2 linked regions of the Homo sapiens genome follow. The protein of the gene in region 2 interacts with the protein of the main gene of each other region in a pairwise test. Each region holds a gene or a part of one and is shown on either strand. Other genes may lie near its edges.

The links. Proteins that work in one complex are often made in the same cells at the same time.
Region 1: the proteins of TMT1A (region 2) and SETDB1 interact in binary tests that used the Homo sapiens proteins (3 or more experiments, as listed by UniProt).

Annotation. Positions count from the first base shown.
Region 1 is NC_000001.11:150,950,256-150,953,913, reverse strand, and holds part of SETDB1 (histone-lysine N-methyltransferase SETDB1), read right to left. Parts: intron 3,457-3,658; coding exon 2,824-3,456; coding exon of another isoform or gene 2,820-2,823; intron 2,550-2,819; coding exon 2,433-2,549; intron 1-2,432. UniProt on the Homo sapiens protein: Histone methyltransferase that specifically trimethylates 'Lys-9' of histone H3. H3 'Lys-9' trimethylation represents a specific tag for epigenetic transcriptional repression by recruiting HP1 (CBX1, CBX3 and/or CBX5) proteins to methylated histones.
Region 2 is NC_000012.12:50,930,512-50,933,166, reverse strand, and holds the end of TMT1A (thiol S-methyltransferase TMT1A precursor), read right to left. Parts: 3' UTR 659-2,655; downstream 1-658. UniProt on the Homo sapiens protein: Thiol S-methyltransferase that catalyzes the transfer of a methyl group from S-adenosyl-L-methionine to alkyl and phenolic thiol-containing acceptor substrates.

The sequences.
Region 1 (3,658 bases), on a different chromosome or scaffold from region 2:
CACTGCACTCCAGCCTGGGCGACAGAGCAAGACTCCATCTAAAAAAAAAAAAAATTTTTTTTTTAATTTTTAAATCATTTTTTTTGAGACGGAGTCTTGTTGTGTTGTCCAGACTGGAGTGCAGTGGTGCAATCTCAGCTTACTGTAATCTCTGCCTCCCAGCTTCAAGCGATTCTCTTGCCTCAGCCTCCCAAATAGCTGAGATTACAGGCGTGCACAATCACGCCTGGCTAATTTTTGTATTTTTATTACAGATGGGGTTTCACCATGTTGGCCAGGCTGTTCTTGAACTCCTGACCTCAGGTGATCCACCCACCTTGGCCTCCCAAAGTGTTGGGATTACAGGCATGAGCCACCGCGCATGGCCAACAATTTTTTTTTTTTTTTGAGATAGAATTTTGCTTTTCTTGCCCAGGCTGGAGTGCAATGGTGCGGTCTTGGCTCACTGCAACCTCCACCTCCTGGGTCCAAGTGATTCTCCTGTCTCAGCCTCCCAAGTAGCTGGGATTACAGGTGCTCGCCACCATCCCTGGCAAGTTTTTTGTATTTTTAGTAGAGATGGGGTTTCACCATATTGGCCAGGCTGGTCTTGAACTCCTGACCTCAAGTGATCTGCCTGCCTCAGCCTCGAAAAGTGCTGGGATTACAGGCGTGAGCCACCACGCCCAGCCCCAACAATTTTTTTTTAGACACAGGGTCTTACTATGTTGCCCAGTCTGGTCTCAAACTCCAGGCCTCAAGTAATCTTTCGGCCTCACCCTCCTCAGTAGCTGTCCTCAACCTCATGCTGGTTCCACCTCCTCTGCTCAACCTTTAAATGTTGGGGCACCCAGGGCTTACTCCTGAGCCGCCTTCTCTATTATCAACATTGTCTCTAGGTGAACTTATTCAGGCTTTAAATACTCCTGTGCTGATGATTCCTAAATTTTTATATCCCACTCTCTCCAGAAATCCCAGTGTCTTCTTGACATTTCTACTTGGATTGCCTGACAGGCATTTCAAACTTTTTGTTTTGTTTTGTTTTCTGAGACTGAGTTTCGCTCTTGTTGCCCAGGCTGGAGTGCAATGGTGCGATCTTAGCTCACCACAACCTCCGCCTCCCAGATTCAAGCAATTCTCCTGCCTCAGCCTCCCGAGTAGCTGAGATTACAGGCATGCGCCACCATGCCCGGCTAATTTTTTTTTTTTGTATTTTTAGTAGAGACGGGATTTCTCCATGTTGGTCAAGGCTGGTCTTGAACTCCCGACCTCAGGTGATCCGCCCGCCTCAGCCTCCCAAAGTGCTGGGATTACAGGCGTGAGCCACTGCGCCCGGCGGCATTTCAAACTTAACATGGCCAAAACAAAAACTGAATTTCACTCAAACCTACTACTCCTTCGGTCTTCCATCTCAGTAAAAAGCACCAACAACCACTAAGATGCTCAAGCCAAAAATTTAGGAATTGTCCTTGATTCTACTCTTTCCCCCCACTCCATAATCTATCCAATTCTGTAGCTCTACCTATTAATACAGCCCAAATCTATCCTTCTTACCTCTACTATCACCTCCATTCTATTGCAAGTCATAGCTGCAACAATGTCTCTCTCTGCTGTACTCCTATAACGATCTCCTAATTGGTCTTCCAAAATCTACTTTTGCCATCCTAAGACCTATGATCTACAAAGAAGCCAGAGTAATCTGAAAAAGGCAGGTCACATCACTTGGCAGCTTAAAATCCTGTAAGAGCACCATGAATTTGATTCTAACTTTTCTTTTTTTTTTTTTAAGGCAGAGTCTCGCTCTTGTCACCCAGGCTGAAGTGCAGTGGCATGATCTTGGCTCACTGCAACCTCTGCCTCCTGGATTCAAGCGATTCTCCTGCCTCAGCCTCCCAAGTAGTTGGGACTGCAGGCACCCGCCACCACCCCCGGCTAATTTTTGTATTTTTAGTAGAGACAGGGTTTCACCAGGTTGGCCAGGCTGGTCTCAAACTCCTGACCTCAGGTGATCCACCCACCTTGGCCTCCGAAAGTGCTGGGATTACAGGTGTGAGCCACTGTGCCAGCCTGATTCTAACTTTTTTCATTCTGATTTACAAAGCCCTATGTAATCAGGTCCCTGCCTACTTCTCCTCTCTGAACACATTTCACTTACAAGTGTAAATCACAATCTGTTAAGACATTCATTTAGCTATGAAATTAAGATAATCTTTTTTTGCAACAGAAAATTGCTAGATACTATTCAATCATTCTATGTCTTCATTTCAAGGAAGGTCCAAGAAAAAAAATGTGTTTTGGAAGTCATGAAATAAGATCTAATTAATAAAATGCCTCATCTGGTATTCTATTTTTGGTTCCAATTTTTAGATTTCTGATGATTTCTATAAGCACAGAAAAACAAGAACATGCTCCTCAGTCTCTCTGAGGTACTGTGCCATTCCTTGACCACTTACCCTGTGGGTAGACACTCTTCTAGTCTCTTGTACTGGTAGCCAGAGTTAGGGTTGATTTGGCCTCCTGGGGTACAGGCTGTAGCCTGGATAGTTAGTTGATGGCAGGCACACTTGGACCTATATGACAGAGGGAAATAAAGGAAAGGAGCGGGGGGATCAGAGAACAAAAATAACACAATACACATGTACCCAAGGTTGCTCAGTGTGGCCATGTCAGACTCCAGCCTCCCTACCTCATAGCTTTCATGGAGGCCTTATAGCAGGAGTTCCAGGTGAGGGAGGAGGTAAAGGAAGATGGGGAAAGCAGTACAGATACAAGGCAAAGGAAGAGGTGAAACAGACACCATAACAAAGTTGGAAGCAGGGGCAGCAATTCCCCCCACCAACTCACTTGTCCCGACACCCATCCTTGCAGTCACAGCCAACCAGAAATTCAGGGCCTGTGTTAATGAAAACACCCTTGCCCGGGATACGTTCCTTGCTGTAGGCCACCTGGGGTGGAGGGGTTGTGTCAATCTCATTGACACAGGATAGGGGAACATCTTCCTTCCCATAAGTGATGTCCAAAATATAGTAAAAAGGCTTATAGGGCTGAAACTTTCGGTCCACAAGAACATATGGATCCAAACAGAACATCTCCAGGAAGAGGAAGTCACAGCCAGTCTCGAAAAGGTAGCGTTCTATCTCCTGCATTGTCCGAAGGCAGAGACCACAAGGTGTCTTATAGATAACATGAAAGCCCATCTTGCGGTTAACTCGACGCCGGGCTGTCATCCGCCGGAAGTCATATAGTAACGGGACCAGCAGAGGGTTCTTGCCCCGGTACTGCTCATTCCTCATAGGTCTGACTCGAGACAGACAGGTATAGCTGCAGACATGAGGTAAGTAGAAAAGCTTCTCCATGGGAGCACGGTAGGAGGGCTCTGCTGGGGCCCGCTCCAGCATGCCATGGAAGACTGGGGGTGCTGGAGGGGCCGGGAGTGCTGAGGGTGCTGGGGCAGAGGCTGTGGAGCCTAAAGGTGATCTGCAAATGAGATGCAAGTGATCAGATCGGAAGGCAACAGGACCTCTGTTTTATAATTAACCCTCCAGGTAGCTAAGCCATTTCTCTCATCTTTCAAACAGCTGTGCTCCTGAAGCTAAAGATGATTCAAGAAAGATCTTCCCTTGCCCTACCAAACCTGGACAATGAAACTCCCTGGTTACTCTTCACTGACTGATAACAT
Region 2 (2,655 bases):
AACTTGTGGAATGACTGTAAAAAACTTCATTTATTTATTTCTCTACACCTCAGTTTTCTCTGAAAAGTGACAATAATATTTGCCACACCACTTAGACAAGAGGGAATTGACAAGACTGTGCCTAGGACTTTGTACTTTGGTATTATCTTTCAGTGTAATGACATTTCATCATTTCAACCTGTGGCTTTTCCTATTTCTCAATCACTAGACTGACCAATAGTGAGATGGTTGGATTAAGGAGGTTCCAATTCTGGGGAGATGACAGAGGAAGGAGATTCATGTTCCAGAGCTTAGGAAGCAGTAGGTGTGCATTCGACCTCACTGCATCAATAACTTTTCACGTTCAAGAGATAGTTAAAATAGTAAAAGCTTCCTTTCTTTCTGCTCTGTGGATTTCACAAATGGGATCGTTAGACTTGAACTTTTTTGCTTTTTTAAAGTAGCCAAACATGATCACATGATGGACTTGAACTTTTCAAAACCCATTCTGATACTTCTAGGATTGCTTTGTGTAAAATCTATTGGCTGTGTTTATAGTTACCTGGCTGTAGAAAGAAAAATTTACATGTTTAAATAGCTAAAATTTCCACAATGAAGGAATAAGCCTCCCAGAGACATTAAGAAAAAGGAAACCAAGCCAGCAAAGATATAAACCATATTTCTGTTCCTAACACAAATGTGAATTTATTGGTTGATTTGATATTTAAAATAGTACTTTTACAAAATCATCTCAGAAAATATACTACATTTATTAAAATTCCTACAAACCATTGCAGAAAATATTAAACCCTCTAACCAACCTAACACTCGCTTTCAGAGGCACTTGTGATGATTTTCACAGCTTCCATAGTTGCAAAGAACAAAGAAATCATCTTCCAACAGGGGTGGAATTAGATAAGAATAATCCAAAAAATATTTATTTCTTTACAGACTCACAGATTGCTTGATGTTTAGGGGCTCTTACCTAGGATACCTAATTATTCAAGGTTTTCCTAATTTAGTAGACTTTTTCATTGCCTACAATCTACAATATTCAGCAAAGTATTAAGGAAAATGAACCCAAGAACCTTAACCACCTCAAATAGTTTTATGGATATACTAAACTGTCAAGTACAATCTTTATCTTAAGACTTGAGAACTGGAATGCAGGAAAACAAACTTTGGTGGAATACTGGAATAAAAGACATAAAGCTGGGCAGAACTAGGTGTGGCAACCTTGTATGTTAATTCTGAAAGCCAGACCAGTGACGCTAAGAATAACAAATAGATTCAGATTTGTTTTTCAGAAACTTGAGCTATTTCGGCCAGGTGCACTGTCTCACACCTGTAATCCCAACAATTTAGGAGGTCAAGGTGGGAGAATCACTTGAGCCCAGGAGTTCAAGACCGGCCTAGGCAACACAGTGAGACCCTGTCTCCCTGTCTCTACTTCTTTTTTTTTTTTTTTTTTTTTTTGAGACGGAGTCTTGCTCTTGTCACCCAGGCTAGAGTACAATGGCATGATCTCGGTTCACTGCAACCTTCGCCTTCTGGGTTCAAGAGATTCTCCTGCCTCAGCCTTCCAAGTACCTGGGATTACAGGCACCCACCACCACGCCTGGCTAATTTTTTTTTTTTTTTGTATCTTTAGTAGGGTTTTGCCATGTTGGCCAGGCTGGTCTTTAACTCCTACCTCGTGATCCACCCGCCTCGGCCTCCCAAAGTGCTAGGATTACAGGCGTGAGCCACCACGCCCAGCCCCCTGTCTCTTTTTTTAAAACACAATTTAAAAGCAGAAAGAAAAAATCTGTGCTGTTTAGACTCAGATTCTTAATTAGCTAGTATTTCTTAATTCAATCAATAAATTATTAAGACCTTTTCACTGCTCCCTTTTTAAAGTCTTCTTTGGAGTGATTTAAGTGCTTCTTATTACCAAGCTCTCAAAGAGAAGATAAAATTAAAATCTGATGGGTAACCATTTAAATAAGACAACTGGGGTAACCCATTTCTCCAGGACCCCTCTCTGCAACAGAGAGCTATTCTCTTTCTTTGGCCTAGTAAACCTCTGCTCTTAACCTTAAAAAAAAAAAAAAAAAAGCAATTGGAAAAAATTTCAAGTCAATGAATAAAATAAGATTTGGGGATAATGGTAGATGCTAATTATGAAAGTCGACTGTTTCCTTTGAAGGGGGAGTTCAAAGCTGTTTTTTTGATGTGAATTCTTTGGGAGACAATAGAAAATGGCTAAATAGGATATAACAGAAACTTTTAAGGATGGAATTCAACTTTACCTAAAAAAGGTTTCAGGCCAGGCATGGTGGCTGACGTCTGTAATCACAGCACTTTGGGAGGCCGAGGCAGGCAGATCACCTGAGGTCAGGAATTTGAGACCAGACTGACCAACGTGGGGAAACACCATCTCTACTAAAAGTACAAAATTAGCCGGCGTGGTGACGCATGCCTGTAATACCAGCTACTCAGGAGGCTGAGGCAGGTGAATCACTTGAACCCGGGAGGTGGAGGTTGTGGTAAGCTGAGATCACAGCATTGCACTCCAGCCTGGGCAACAAGAGCGAAAACTCCGTCTCAAAACAAAACAAAAAAACCTTAAGCTGGGTGCGGTTGCTCACGCCTGTCATCCCAGCACTTTGGGAGGCTGAGGTGGGTGGATTGCCT